2 linked regions of the Homo sapiens genome follow. The gene in region 1 interacts genetically with each later gene. Each region holds a gene or a part of one and is shown in the gene's direction. Other genes may lie near its edges.

Region 1 (8,018 bases):
CTCCGCCCCCGCCCAGACCCCCTGAGCTGCCGGGGGAGCCAGGAGTCATTTATCTTTGCCTGGCGCGGGTTGGGATTTGTCCGGCTCTGATGCCAACGAGGAAGGCGTGCGGATAACGAAGTAAGTGTCCCCCGCCCTGCGCTCCGGTCAGTCCCCAGACGCCCGGAGCACTCTGGGAAAGGGCTGAAGCCCACCCTGGGCGAACCGTCCTCCAAGGCGCGTCCCCCACTGGGGTATTCTGGCCCCTGGCTCTTGTCCTCTTGGCGCATCTGATTTCCAGTCTAAGCCCCTCGCGGTTATGCCGTCCGAGAAAGTGTTGGTCGCCAACTCTCCACGGACAGTCCGCGGCGGAAATTGGCTTCAGAGCTGGCGTGGGCTTCATTTGAAAGAAATGATTCCCTCCCGCCCTCCTCCCGCCCCCAGGAGGGCAAGCTCCAGGGGAAGAGGCAGGCCCGCTTGGGTTCCTAGAAGCCGTCGAAAGCTTTTGACGCGGGCGATTCCCATAGTTTTCCCTGCGTGTTCCAGGGTTGAGGGAAAACGCGGCGCAACTTTCCAGGGCTCTTTAAAAGGCAGGGTCTCTCTGCCTGGGTGACCGAACTTGAAAGCCATGGACCTTGGGGATGGATGCCGGGCCCTCAGAGCCCGGGATGGCCCAGGCGAGAGCCGAAGTCCCGCGCCCGGCACCCTGCACCCTCCACCCAGGCGCCCAGGCCTACGCTGTCCGGAGCGGGCCTCTAGGAAGGAAGGTTGACCAGGGTCGAAAGCACGCACAACAAAAACTTGGTGTCGACAAAGAGAAATCAAGAAACGTCATTAGAGTGCAGGCCATAAAAGAAGGCCTGACAGAGAGAAAAGGAGAGAAGATGGAAATAAGAAAAACCATACACCTTTAACACTAGCATATAAAGATCTATTGATTTTTAAAATAACAAATCCGTGTTTGTGAAAAACAGGCGGCCTTTTACTAAATTACATAAGGAAAACTTGGGAGGTGGGTGAAGAAAAGGGGAAAAGTCTGAGCAGATTCCCGACAAAAACGTCAGTTAGAAGGAAACTGAGGGATAAAAATGTCCCCCAGATGTGAACTCCATGTTTTGAGCATGGAAGCAAACTATCTCCTAATGCACAAAATGGGTTTTAGATAAAAGTATTTTTAAAAATCAAACGTAATTAAAACAACTCTTTTCTCGTGATTTTGTTTTAAAAAGTTTGGAAATAAACCTTTTGAGGGATACAAAACGAAACCAAACAAATATTCTTGAATCATCAGCAAATTTATTCATTTACTGTTTTAAACAATACAAAATTCTAGCGAAAGGTAAAACTATTAAAATATATCTTATTGTCGAAATTAAACCTGCTGGAAATAATCGCTTCAGTTGAAATAAGGTCAATACAAAAATTGTGCAGTAAAAAGCGTATGTAATTTGAAACAAAAAAGGCCTTTATTAGAGACAAAACTCGAGAGGACAAAAACCCACACCGGACATAGATCACAAAACTTCCTAGAACTCTCCTTTAAATCGGAAGAAATTTGTAAAATGTGATATGAAATACAACTCTACAAACATCCAAAATACATTTCTGGTCATAATTAATCGTATTTGACATTTTCCTCTAAGTTTAATGCAACTTTAAATAATTTAGGCTTTTTCCTAACATGATAGATTTTTTTCAGTATCAGAAATGGACAAGAGGAAACTCCAGTAAAGAGAAAAGCAATGAATTTAAAAGGGTGCAGAATCTGAAAACAAACTAACCACAATGTACATTTAATTGTACTTAATTGTATATTTCATTTAAATAGTCCTTCTCAGGGGTTTAATAATTTAGAATCAATAGTTCCCTTCAAAACATAATAAAATATTTACACTTTATAAAATATTAACCGATTAACAATACAGCCGTGTTGTTTATAAGAGTGTAACTGAAGTCCTGCAAATCATGCTGTTGACACAAGCCTGTGAGGTTAGCGAAGTGATCCTTAGCAAAATGTAAATGAAGATCTTCAGACAGTGGTGTTTATAAAATAGCTCATTAATGACTTAGGATTGAATCGCTCCAACCATTCGCATCATCAGATATAATAATAGTGACGAATCAGACAGGAAAGATCCTGGCTAAACCATTTGCATTTTTTTCCAGAAGTACTGAACTCCTAATATCACCAATTCTTCTAAGTTCCTGGACATTGATCCGGAGGAGGATTCGCAGTTCAACATCAAGGTAAGGAAGGATACAGCATTGTTATCGTTGTTGAGATATTAGTAAGAAATACGCCTTTCCCCATGTTGTAAACGGGCTAAGTTTGACAGTGGTAGTTGGCTTTTGCAACACCCCCTTCCCATTTCGACATATTACAGATTGAAGAAAAAGTTTGTTGCTCAAAACTTACAGTTTGTTTCTTTGCAGCCCCAAACCTTTTAGCTACCACCACGGGTTGATTTACTAGACCCATTTTTGCTCTCACCGACTTCGAACTGTGCATTTTCTCCCACTCTTTTGACTGGGGGTGGTATGCGGGGGGAGGATGGGGCTTGGTGAAGAAAACCAGGGAAAGGCAAACGCTGCCTAAAACTCCCAGGGTGGCTCCCCTAAGAATTGCTATCCTGCTTGTTTCTTTTCTCGGCTGGGATCCGACCGACTCCCAGGTCGCCTCGGACTTCTTTGGAACTTGGTGGGCGGCGCCTAGGTGCGGGGTTCGTGGTGATCTGGGCGCCGACACTTAGGCCGGGGGCAGGTTTCCTTCCTGGGACCCTTTCTCTTCCAGAGGCTCTCAAGCCTCTAAGCCCGTGCGCATGCCGCCTACCAGGTAGATGCGGCGAGGGCGAGTGGAAGGCAGCCTTGTCCCGGGCACGATCGGCGGACTCAGCTTTTCGCAGTCTCTGCTCCCAGCAGGGATTTACAGAACTGCTCCCGAGAGCGTTTCCCGAAACCGAACTTAGTTTGGCCCTCTGGCGCCGCCGTACAGTCAACGCTTCTTAAGGGGGATCGGTGGCTCTTGCTGCGGGAGATGTGGGAGAGCCCTCGGGGTCCTGGGGATTAGGAGGGAGAGTCAACGTGTGCGGGAGGGACATGAGGTGCAACCAGTTGAGGGGGGATTCTCTGGCCTCAGGGCCGGCGGGGATGCGTCCACATTTTCTCGCCTAAGGTCCTAGCGGCTAATGTCCGCCGACGCCCCGGGTATCTCGCGGGGGCTGCGGCCCCTGCCCACGTGCTTTTCCTTAAGGAGGCAGCGCGCCCAAGCGGAATCGCAGGGACAAAAGCGCGGCCAGAGGCCAGCCTGCTCGGCTAGTGCCCGCGCCACCTTAAATGAGCACCGCGGCCGGAGTCGGGCTGCCGGCGGCCGCGGCCGCGGGAGTCGGCAAAAGTTTGTGGCTCTGTTACGCCTTCGCGGGACCTGCTGGGGACGCTCCTGTGCGGCCTCCCCCCGGGCGGGGAGGCCGGGTCCTCAGGGCACAGCTCTGTTGGCGCCAGCAGCCCTGGGCTCGAGCAGCTTGGGGTCCCCAGGAGCCCCAGTCCTGTAGCCCGAGGACAGGCAGCCCCACCGCCCTCGCCGCCACCGCGTCACGGGCTCCAGGCGGCCCGGTTTGCACCGCTCGCGATGTCGCCGGAGCGGCGAGCGCTCCAGCGATGCCATCCAGGGATGCACCCCGCTCTGCATCCACCACGCAACCCCCATTCCTGTGCCACCCACAGCCCGGCGGGCAGTGGCCGTGCTCCTGGCATTCGGGACACCCCGACTATTGTTCCGGACTCGCGGCCGTGCCAGCTTTGAAGGAGAAGCGGCCTTCCCTGCGCGCGCGGCGGCACGAAGCGCGGCGGGCCGGGACGTTCGGCTCGGCGCGGAGGGGGAGCTCGCAGGCACCGGGAAAAGTTGCTCGGAGGGGCGGAGGCGGTGGGTGGTGGGCGGAGGCGGTGGGTGGGGGAGGCGATCGCCCTCCTATCTCCAAAGTCGAAAGTACTCCGCGCAGTTAACAGAGCTGGGAGCCGAGGCAGCCGCGGTCGCCTCTTGCGCGTCGGTCTGCGTCTCCGCCGGCAGACGCGGCACCCAGCGACTGCCTTGTCGCCGCCGCCTCCGCGCCGGGACGAGTGCGCCTAGGGGCTGGGCGAGGCGGCCGCGCCCTGGACCCGCCACAAGGAGGAGGACCAGACCCTGGGCCCCGGTGCCCGCCTGCGCCCAGACGCACCCACCCGCTGGCCGCGGCCACCGCCTCGCGCCGCACTCGGTTCTCTGCCATCGGTCCTTCGCCGCCTCGTGCATGAGGTCCTCGTCACCCCGCTCCGACCGCCGACTCTCCCCTTCCTCTTCCCTCCTCCCTGCCTCCCACCCGCCCCTCGCCTGTCCCTCTGCCTCCTTCGCAGCCCCGCCGCCGTTGGGTCGCCGTGCTCACAGCGATTGATTGATTGATGTTTAATTTCCTGCCAGGCGGGGCCCCCCTCCCCCCGCAACCTCCCCAGCCCTCCTCCCCGCCCCCCACTCCCCTCTTTTCTTGCGGTGGACCAGTCTGGCTTGGGTTTAGATCCATCCCCCCCACCCCCATCCCGAAATAATCCAGAGACTTCCCCTACCCCCACCCCAAATTATTATTTTGAAGGCGCTAGATCTGGGGACCGAAAGGGGGAGGGGGAGAAATCGGAAACCGAGGACAACCCAAAAGGACTCACTTTGCCTGATGACTCAACGCAACTAATAATCATCTCCCTCTCAGTGTGTCTCTCTCTGCGGCTTGTCAGTGAGTCCGGCTCTGGCTGCTGGCAGAGGCGGCCGAGAGGGGAGAGGCTGGAGGTGACAGCTTGGGCGGCCGCCGCGTTTCCTCCCGCGCGCGGTCCCGGGTCCCTGCGTCTTCTCGGCTCTTGGTGTTACCGGTCCCACCGCTCTGGCCGCGCCTCCTCGCGAGCTAGCCGCCCTGCGAACCAGCAGCCCCGGCTCGCCGCCGCCGCCGCCGCCTCCGGGTTCTCAGCCCTTTCTCTCCAGAACGGGTCTCCTTCCCGAAGGTGTGAAAAGGCTCTTTCAGCCTCCTTCTCTTCCCCCCTCCTCCGCCGTCCCCTCCCCCGCTCGCTCGGGTGTCCCTTTGGAGGAGTCCTTTCCCTCTCCTCCTCCTCCCCCTCCTCCCTCCCCCCATCATCATCATAACAACCATCTCCGCACCAGAAGAAGACACCCTGACCCAGGACCTTAAACATTAGGACCTGGGGAAGAGGGAAGGGGAAGGAGTAAAGAGGAAGACTAGGAGAACACTGCAAAGCCAAGCACCAGAAACTTTCCACCCTGGATTCTCTACTTTTGCTCCATGGACAGAGCCCCAGTCAGCCAAGTTTCAGACAGACCGTGAGCAGTAAGTACGCAGGGCGAGGGCTCCCGCGCCGCGCTCGGGAGTTCGGGGAAGCCCAGGGCCAACGAAGTCCCCTCCCCGCCGCTCTCGGCCTCTCGGACCGCGAAGTCGGGGAATGCAGGCGGAAGCCTCGCCCTCAGCCCTCCTGCTCCGTGTCTTCATCTCGCATCCTTCCTTTCACCTCCCCCTGCCACCCCCACCTTGTCTCCTTGACCCGTGGCGCCGACACTGCTCGCGCGGCCAGAGCGCCCACGAGGATTCCCAGCGCGCACGCAGTACGGTGCCGGGGTCTTGCTTCTTGCGGGTGTCAGTGACAACGCGAGCGCCGTTTCATCAGGTGTTTCCCCTCCTTCCCCGCCCCCCCCCACCCCCCCAATCCAGGGGTGTCGAGACCTGCGGCTTCCGTGGGGAGCGCACTGCCAACCTAGTGACCCAGAGGAAAACTTTCTGGAGCGATGTTAAAATTGGGGCGGATGAAGGCTGCTCTTGCACTAAGAATTCAAATGCTTTTTGCTTTTGTGTTTTATATTGAAGAGCTTTAAAAAAGCACTGGGGATCAGATGAAGATAAGAACGCTCCAAAATAATAACGATTGTAGCGCCCGCCTTTGTGATGGAGGTTATTCTGATAAATACCTCCAAGTGTTTTCGGATGCTTATTAATGTGGAATTAGGGTTGATTTTATGCAGGTGTGTGCTTATCTCAGGACTTGCTCCGTATAGGTAAAAAGCGGGTATTCAAGGGGTTCTTTCGCCCGGCCTTTGGCTCCTGCCTGGCCATTCACAGCGCATTTACCGGGTGGTTAATTCGGTTATGGACTTGCGCACACCCCCAACTCCCTTCCCATGTGGGTGGAACGTCTTTTTCTGAAGTTCACTTATTCCGCAACCCTGACCCCGGGACGGGCTAGGCTGTAGCACCCAGGAACGGTTTATGCCAACCCCGTCCCAATGAATGGACCACTTCTAGGCGCCCCTGGGTGCCAACCCCGGCCGCGACCCCGAGGGCTGACTTCTGGGGAGCTGCGACTGGGCAGAGTCGCCGAACCGAGGCGCTGGGCTTCCTGGGGGCCGCCCAGTGTAAGGTTGGGACCGGCTTCCCGGCTCGGGCCCCTCGGGCAGCGTGGGAGGAAGTTTGTGTGGCTGTGGTGCAGCGCTCTGCCACTGGCCTGAACGTCTATCACGTGTATGAGCGGTTTTCCCTCTTTTTTCTCCCTCCCCCTTCCTCCCCCCACCCCCTCCCTAGGTCCCTGTGCGTTTTATTGCGACCTGCCGGTGGGAACTTTGTCTCCGAGTCGGAGCAGCATGGAGCGGCGGAGCGAGAGCCCGTGTCTGCGGGACAGCCCCGACCGGCGGAGCGGCAGCCCGGACGTCAAGGGGCCTCCCCCAGTGAAGGTGGCCCGGCTGGAGCAGAACGGCAGCCCCATGGGAGCCCGCGGGAGGCCCAACGGCGCCGTGGCCAAGGCCGTGGGAGGTAACAGCCCGGAGCAGGGAGGCGCGCAGCCCGCGGCCCAGTGATAATGGCCCGGGTGTCAGGGTTCAGGTTGATTAGGCGCTGTCGCGGTGTAGGATTACAGGAAGTGAATTCCAGGTTGCCAAATAATGCCCCCGTCGCCTCTCATCTGCAACTGGTAGCTTCATCTCCAGTTAAAACAAGAAAGTGGTTTTACCCAGAGGGTGGCATTTTTTGGGCATTTTGCCACTGTGTGCTGAGGTGTTGGCAGGTTTATGTCACAGCCAGCTAACTGTTTCTAGATTTTCCTAGAGAGCTTTTTAGTGATTTAACTCTTTTGCCTTGCCTCGGAGTGTCTGTTGTAGGGATGAAGTTCACGTGCGTTCGCTTTTAGGGAATAAAATAGTCATTAATGCTCAGGCGAGTACAGGAACAAGGAGAGTTGATGTTACTTTGTAGTGAGGACAGTGCTTCAAGACAGATGAATGACAACTGGGAATATTTCCTGCCACGTGAAATGTGGGAAATAAAGAATCACCATGAATCCATCAGGCCCTTAGAAGCTTAAATGCTGCTGTTGTCTATAAAGTTTAGTCATATGCATTCGTAACTTTATTATGAATTATAGGAGAACAGATAAAAATAGCAAAGTAGCCTTATCAACTAGATGTAGTTTCCCCTCCAAAGAATTTATTAATAATTTTATTTAAAGAAAATCTTTTGTAGTTTTTACTACTTAAGCAACTACTTTCTTTTAAAGTGGTCAGGAAAAGCAATCATACAAAATAAAGATATGGGAGAAATTTAAACATTGAAATATTTTGGAGTTTGTATGCCATTTGCTTAGTTGTCTTTTACATGTAAAATCCACAATTCCACATGGCATGCAGGTTTTCTGTGTGTTTGGCATAAATCACTAGTTTAATTTTTTTTGCCTCTAACGTTTTTTCTCTAATAATTTCAACAGTAGCCCATTTAATATTCAATATATTAACTTGTCTTAAATGATATAAAACCTTGGCAAACCTTAATGATAAGCTCCCACCCCCTTGTTGTAAGTGTCTATTGTGTGTATTTCAAAATAGTTACTTACATCTAAAAATGTTCATTCCTCCTTAAAGAGTTGAACACATACGTTTTATAAAATCGTATTTTTTTCTTTTTACTTATTTTGCTATTTCTATTTCTTCATGGTAAATACTTAGGATGGTTTGTCTCAGTCTTTCATAT
Region 2 (7,786 bases), on another chromosome or scaffold:
GTGAAAAGGGAGTAAGTAGACTTGTTTCTTGAAACTTAGGATTTTCAAACTTCCTGGATCGTAAGAAAAAGAAAACGTCCAAGGGGGATGAATGAGCAAGTCTGCTGCATTCCTTTGCACACCCCTTTCATCAAGGAAACTTTGAATACCTTTACTTTTTCTATTGGCTGCCCAAGAGTTTGTATCTCCTAAAACAAAGTTTGTAAACCAGTATCCTCGATTGACCTGAACCTGGGAGGCAGACTGATAGATAATCTCAAAACAGAGTGATCTACAGCCTGGAAATTCTGGTGAAGAAGAAAAATCAGTGTATGAGAGAGCTAGAGGAAGAAAGTTTACAGTCAAATAACATGTTTGAACGTGCAGTTGTGAAAACAGAGCATGCCCCAATGTGGCTATAGGACTGATGGGTTAAAGGGAATAGAGGTGTGGTAGCCAACTGCCAAGATGACCACCAATGCATTGTCTTGCCAACTGGTTTTTACGCCTCTATGCAGTCTCCTCCCACAGTGGATACTGCCAATTTGTATAACTAAAGGATACTGCGGGAAAGACGAAATATGACCTCCAAGGCTGGATCATAAAAGATATAATGGGGCCGGGCGCGGTGGCTCACACCTGTAATCCCAAAACTATGGGAGGCTGAGGTGGGTGGATCACCTGAGGTCAGGAGTTTGTGACCAGCCTGGCCAACATGGTGAAACCCCATCTCTACTAAAAATACAAAAAAATATCTGGGCGTGGTGGTGGGCACCTGTAATCCCAGCTACTTGGGAGGCTGAGGCAGGAGAATCACTTGAACCCAGGAGGTGGAGGTTGCAGTGAGCTGAGGTCATGCCACTGCACTCCAGCAACAAGAGCAAAACTCCACTTTAAAAAAAAAGACATTGTGGCACAATCCAGCTGCCATGAAGCTAGGAAACTCAGGCAGTGACACAGAGAAGTCAACAGGGTTCCAGCCAATAACAGGACTAACTTTCCAGGCACGTGAGTGAGCTGCCTTGGAAGCAGATTTTCCAGCCCCAGCCATGCTTCCACCTGAAAGAAGCTGGGGCAACATCTTCAGTACTATCTCATGATACCCTGATCTGGAATTACCCAGCTAAGACTAATGGATTCCTGACACATAGAAACTGTGTGAAATAACAAATATATATTGTTTTAAGACATTAATTTTTGCAGTAATTTGTTATGAAGCAGTAGATAAGTTATATCTGATTTTGGAGGTGGAGGAGGTCTGTTTGTGTGATCTGTAAGAGGAACAGAGATGAAGATTCATAGAGAAAAGCAGGTCCAAAACCAATATGCCAACATATAGAATAGACAAATGGGTGCTGAGTCACCCAGAATAATGGCAGGGTGTGGAGTGAAGAAGAGAACCAAGAGCCCAACTAGATCCAAAGTCTTAATTTTAAAAAGTGGGATGGAGGATGGTTGATGCAAATATAAGTGCTTCAAAAGAGCAGGAATTTCTATAAGAAGAAGTAATCATTTGAAAGCTGAACTGGAGCCCCATGAAGGAGCCACAGACTCCCTTTCCCAACCTTCGTGCACACAGAAATGGGCTCTGGTGGAAAATATGAAAGTGCATGAGAAATGATATTACTGTCCACACACTAATCTCATCCTTAATATCAACTGGACCTTGCTATACTAACTTAAGAGTGTTGATCAAACTTTCTAAATTTTTTTGATGCCAATTTTCTAAGGAAAAGAACTTCTTATAAGATTTTTAAAACAAGCTTGGTTTGCTGCACTATTTGCAATACACACACAAAAAGGTCACATTTCTGTGTCCTTTTGAGTAAAGTCATATCCATCTTTGAAGCCTCTCTCAGGACCACAAGCTGTTTTTTTTTCTTTTTTCTTCTTATGGCTTCATCACTTCACTGGTGTTATACCAGGATTTAGGAACCAAGCAATCCAAAGAAATGTGGGAGAGGCCTCGTCTGGCCAGTAGTCCAACATGATTGCCTCTGGAATTCACCATGAGACTCACAGTTCACCAGAAGGCAGAGGCAAAAATCAGAGTTGCCAATTAAAATTATTTCTAAAGATGGGTTCACTGCTTCCTATTCCCAAGCCTTTCTGAGACTCCATGGGGTGAATCACTTGCTTCTTTTCTGTATCTCCTCCTGCAGGCATTTAAGCTTTGTAATTTAGTTACATGCATACTTATATTTATCTCTTTCCAACAATTTTGTTCATTTCTGATATCTTCTATTGTCTTCCCTCCCAATTTCTGCCCTTTTCAGTTTTTACTATTATCTTGTGGTTTTAGGAAAAAGCAGATATAAATATGTGTTTAAGCAATGCTATGGTTTGAAGGTTTTTGTCCCCTTCAAAATTTTTGTTGATTCCTAATCCCCTATGCAACAGTATCAGGAGGTGTAACGTTTAGAAGGTGATTCAGGAGGACTCCTCATGAATGGGATTTGATGCCCTTAGGGCTTGATGGAGGAAGTTTGACCCCCTCTTGCCCTTCCACCTTCTGCCATGTGAGGACACAGTGCTCAAGGCATCACTGTGGAAGCAGAGACAGGAACTTCACCAGACAACAAACCTGCTGGCACCTTGATCTTAGACTTCCCAGCCTCCAGAACTATGAGAAATCAATTTCTGTTCTTTGTAAATTACCCAGTCTGTGGCATTTTGTTATAATGACACAAACTAAGACAATCAATCAGAGTTATATTTCCTTGTAAGTATAAATTTTATTTTTTTATTTTTATTTTTATTTTTTTTAAGAAGGAGTCTCGCTCTGTCACCCAGGCTGGAGTGCAGTGATGGGATCTCGGCTCACTGCAAGCTCCGCCTCCCGGGTTCACACCATTCTCCTGCCTCAGCCTCCCAAGTGGCTGGGACTACAGGCACCCGCCACCACGCCCAGCTAATTTTTTGTATTTTTAGTAGAGAGGGGGTTTCACTGTGTTAGCCAGGATGGTCTCAATCTCCTGACCTCATGATCCACCCACCTCGGCCTCCCAAAGTACTGCAATTACAGGCATAAGCCACCACGCCCAGCCGTAAGTATAAATTTTAAAATCACTTCTTAATTAATATAATAGATGAAATGACCCACAGAAGTATCCACTCACAGAAAGGACCATTTCTAAAGGACCAGTTTGGCCTATAAAGAAAATACAATAGCAGACCTTCACAAATTTTCTAACATCAGAAAAGAAAAAATATTTAGATATTAAACTGAATCAAATGTGATGGTCTTACCCAGACAAAGGAAGACTCAGCACCCCATTTCCAAGTTAACTGGGAGCTTTTGTGTTGCTCTTTTTGCCCCCCTTATATTTGATTCTGCTACCTGACCTTTAAACAGAAAAGCTTTCTCTTCTTGCTATCTATGTTTGTTATTTAAAAGATCAAAATATTAAACTCTTGCTATATCTATTTGTCATTTGAAAGATCAAAATATTAAATGATTGTGAAACATTTTTTGCAACTGTAAGAGGGTTGATACTTTTCCTGAATATTATTCATTCAACATTCATTTATTTCTTTGACAAATATTTAAGAGATGCTCATGATGTCCTAGGCATTGAGCTAAGAACTCAATGTTGCAATGTGGATAAGATCCAGTCCCTGTGTGTTCATACTTATTTAATACTATTATAGACAAGGCCTTTAATACATACCATAGTCATATATCAATTTTTAATTAGCAATATGAAATAAGAGAACAATGGGACTTTCCACTCAATTTGACAGGTGGCTAAATTTTCAGTTACTGAATTTACTATTTTAGGGTAATCTAGCACATGACCAAAATTTAAATGCACAGAACAGAAGATCAGAGTAAGAAGAGCTTCCATTTGGATTATCACTTTTTCTACTTGGAGTCACATACTGTACTTTAAATTGATTAAGAACATGTTAAAGGTCCAGGTGGTGATTTCCAGCTACAAGTCCAAAGTATAGAAGAATGTGTTTAAATCCTACGTTTATCAGATCCATAAATATAGTTCCTTCTATGTTAAGTGGCTTTATTTCTAAGAACCCAGCCCTCGGTCCTGGGGGTGCTTCCCAGCCCGCTGCTGGAATTCCTGATCGTGGCAGTCTGCTGAAACATGAGCTCAGTTACCAAATATAGCTGAGTGGAGTAAGAGGACAGATGAGAGTCTGAGGCCACAGTTGCCTCAAAGTGACCACGGACCAGGCAGTCTCTAATGAATAGGCAAGGCCACAACCTCCATTCTCCCAGAAAAGAAGAAATGCTCATCTGAAATTCATCACCTCTCTGGAGTCTTCAAACTGACCAAGCATTGAAAAGGTCTGTAAGGTGTATCTTAATATACTAACTAGTAGGGCAACATTTTAAGGACTTAAAAAAAAAAAAACTAAAAATACAAAAGTTTTTCTGAAGATATGATACTATTTACAAGATACCTTAATTATTCTTTTGCTTGGAGAGGAAACGTAATGAGAATGTTACGGTTTTGCCAAAAACAGATAATACGTAAGATTTGCCTGCCCACTTCATCTCTGCCTTTGCTGTCAGAGAATTACACTTTCTGTTATAAGCTTAAGCATGCTAAGATGGTGCTATCAATTCCAAAAGGATTAAATGTATTTATGGAGCCAGCTTTTGTCAAGATCGTGTATGTGTTATGTTTCACAGAAAAGGAAAACGCAGCTTTCTAGACCCTCACCCATATTTAAGCTAGATAAGTGATGATGGCTTAAAGTGATAGACCTTAGATTTCAGTAACATTATAAATTGTTAATTACACTTTCAAAAGATTCTAAAAGTAACTCACTGGACATAATTAAATGAGTTGGGATAGTAACAGCAGGTATTTTAAATTATATTCATGCATAAAATTTACATACATATTTTTAATAAGATAACGCTTACTAAGGGAAACCACAGTGCAATCTCGAGTCCAGTCAAGTTTAAACATCACAGAATAATTTTTATCATGTTGTTTTAAGTTGCACATGAAATTGTCTTGAATCCAATATAGGAGGTTGACATAAAATGATTTCAGGCTCATATTACTTATTAACATTTGCTAAAAATACTAATTGCCTTCTAGTATGAATAATGTGGTGACATATAAAGCCATTTCTTGGCAATATAAAACTATTACAAATCTATTCAATCACATATATGCAGAAATTAAATCCTCATTTCATGATAAATGTGCCTTCCAATGTTTTTTCTCACAGAAAGAACTTGAATACTCACCTCAATTATTCAGATTTTTTTTTCAGATTTTTAAAATCAAAGTCTCTTTGACAAGTTATTGCTAACAGCAGAAAAGGCCGATGAGGTTTATCTGGCCACTAACTGCCCTGTAAATACATGATTACACATTCCTAGAATATAAATTAGTCCTCTGGCATCCTAGAATCTGGTATGGATTAGGGTCTGTATCCCAGGGGTTCTGTGTCAGCTCTTCCTCTGGGTTTCTCTGTTATTGCTAGAGCTGAATATTAAAACTGGCCTTATAGCATATTTCACAATAGAATGAGGATCTGGATTGCACTGGACAAGTACAATCACTTTGACCTCCTTACCTCATTTTTTAAAAATGTAGAGGGCAATCATTATTCAGGTTTAAAAATAAATATGACAAGTTCTTTAAGAGATACCAAGTGGAATCTGCAAGGCCCAGACAAGAGCTCCACTTCTTAAACAATATGTGTGTGGAGGCTGTCAAAGGGTATTGCAATTACTGAGCTCCAGTTAGAAATTCAGGCCATCTAGAGTTAATGACTGTGTCCCGGTGAAATTACAGCAAAGAAAACAAAGATTGAACAAAGTATCTTCGACTAAAATTTCTAACTGTTAAATCATATTAGAGAATATAGAAGCAAATTTGGTAAATAGGTTTTGAATTTAAGTGAGAAGAATAAAGCCCTGAATTGGATAATGGTAATGGAAATGGATAATTCAGAAGTAAAATCTAAATATTTGCAATGGACTCAGTATGGTGAATAAAGTTGATAAGATGAACAGGACATGGGATAACTTCAAAAACTCTGTAAAGTATCTTATTTGGCTGTTTCTGCATTAAATGAGCTATTAGATTATGTCCTTGAAATTGAGATTAAATAAGCTGTTTAAAGAGATATTTAAAACTGTAGGATAAATATATCTGCCTGCATTGACAATTTAATAATTAGAAAGGAAAATAATCCATGTGTATTTATTAAGAAATAAATTATAAAATTGTAGTGCATTTTCTGCATCAAACATAAAATTTCATAAAATTTTCGTGTTTGACTTTTGCCCTAAAGGACCCTTTGTAGCAAAAAAAAAAAAAAAAAAAAAAAAAAGGAAGGAAGAAAGAAAGGGAGACGGGGAAGAAGGAAGGGAGAAGGGAGGGAGGAAGGGAGGGAGGATGGGAGGGAGGATGGGAGGGAGGATGGGAGGGAGGAAGGGAGGGAGACATGGAAGAAGGGGGAAGGGAGGCAGAAGGGAGGGAGGGGGGAGGGAGGAAGGGAGGGACTTTATTGATTTAGTCTAGGGGGGTTGCCTGTGATTCTGAAGCATGAAAATTAAGTGTTAAAGCTTTTCTAACTTTGGTTTTCATAGTTTAGGTTTTATTAAAAGATATTTCAATATCTAATATTTGTATCAATGGTTTGCATTACTTTTTTAGTAATTGCTTAAATATGAAAATAAAACTGCTAAACCTAAAATTAAAAATCACTTATAACTTTTTTTCAAAAATTACAAAATAAGCAACAAAAGATCCCCCTGCATGTCCCACCTTTCAACTCCTACCCCTGCCTAAATCCCCCCACAGAGGTCAGTGTTGATTGTTTGGTGTATGTTATTCCAACCATTTTCATATATTTATTCCTATCTATGTATACATTTTTAAATGACTATGGGAATTTAGCTATTCCACCTGGACTCTCTAAAGAATCTGCTGAATGTGGTACATGGTATTAAGTGATCCTTACTGCCTGTCAATGTTTTTCTAACATCAAACTTTTTCTTTCAAAATTGTAGCAGTTCTTCATCGACTCAAAGTATTTCACAAACAGACTTCAAAAGTTTTCCCCTTATCTAAATTTTTAAAGTAATTTCCTATAATATCTCCAATGAGAGAAGAAAACTTTGCAGTTAAATGCAGGCTTCCACCCTGAGTCTGCCACTTTCTGATGGCTCAGGTTGGGCCAAATAATTGAAACTTTTTCTGCTGCAGTTGTGGGTAATACAAACAATAAAATAGAAAAATAACATCTACTACATGGATTGTTCTGAGGATCAAACTGTTCACTTTTGAAAGCAGGTAACTTCCAAGCTGTTATGTAGGAACAACTTGCATTGTCACTGAATTCTTTCTACTTACTAGACTCTGCTCTTTCTCATGTATATTCCTTGTCTTCCCCAAGTTCCTCCACGTCAAAGAAATCTGTTGTAATTTCAACAGTCAATAGTGCCTTGATTCATGGGGATCATGCCAGGGGGTGGTCCCATAAGTCTTGTTTGTTTGTTTTTTGAGTCAGGGTCTCACTCTTTTGCCCAAGCTGGAATGCAGTGACCTGATCATCGCTCACTGCAGCCTAGAACTCTTGGACTCAGACAATCCTCCCACCTCAGCCTCTGGAGTAGCTGGGGCTACAGGCACACACCATCACACTCAGCTAAGTTTTTGGGTTTTTTTTTGTATTTTTGTAGAGATGAAATCTAACTATGTTGCCCAGGCTGGTATTGAACTCCTGGGCTCAAGCGATCTTCCTGCCTCAGCCTCCAACAGTGCTGGGAGTACAGATGTGAGCCACCATGCCCAGCCCCCTATAAATATTTCTTAAC

What was found.
Region 2: of SATB2 (region 1) and PALLD, changing one enhances a phenotype caused by changing the other (phenotypic enhancement), as found in Homo sapiens cells (one study listed by BioGRID).

Annotation. Positions count from the first base shown.
Region 1 is NC_000002.12:199,454,660-199,462,677, reverse strand, and holds the start of SATB2 (DNA-binding protein SATB2), read left to right. Parts: upstream 1-4,738; 5' UTR 4,739-5,339; intron 5,340-6,581; 5' UTR 6,582-6,640; coding exon 6,641-6,809; intron 6,810-8,018. UniProt on the Homo sapiens protein: Binds to DNA, at nuclear matrix- or scaffold-associated regions. Thought to recognize the sugar-phosphate structure of double-stranded DNA.
Region 2 is NC_000004.12:168,492,910-168,500,695, forward strand, and holds the start of PALLD (palladin), read left to right. Parts: upstream 1-4,142; 5' UTR 4,143-4,285; intron 4,286-7,786. UniProt on the Homo sapiens protein: Cytoskeletal protein required for organization of normal actin cytoskeleton. Roles in establishing cell morphology, motility, cell adhesion and cell-extracellular matrix interactions in a variety of cell types.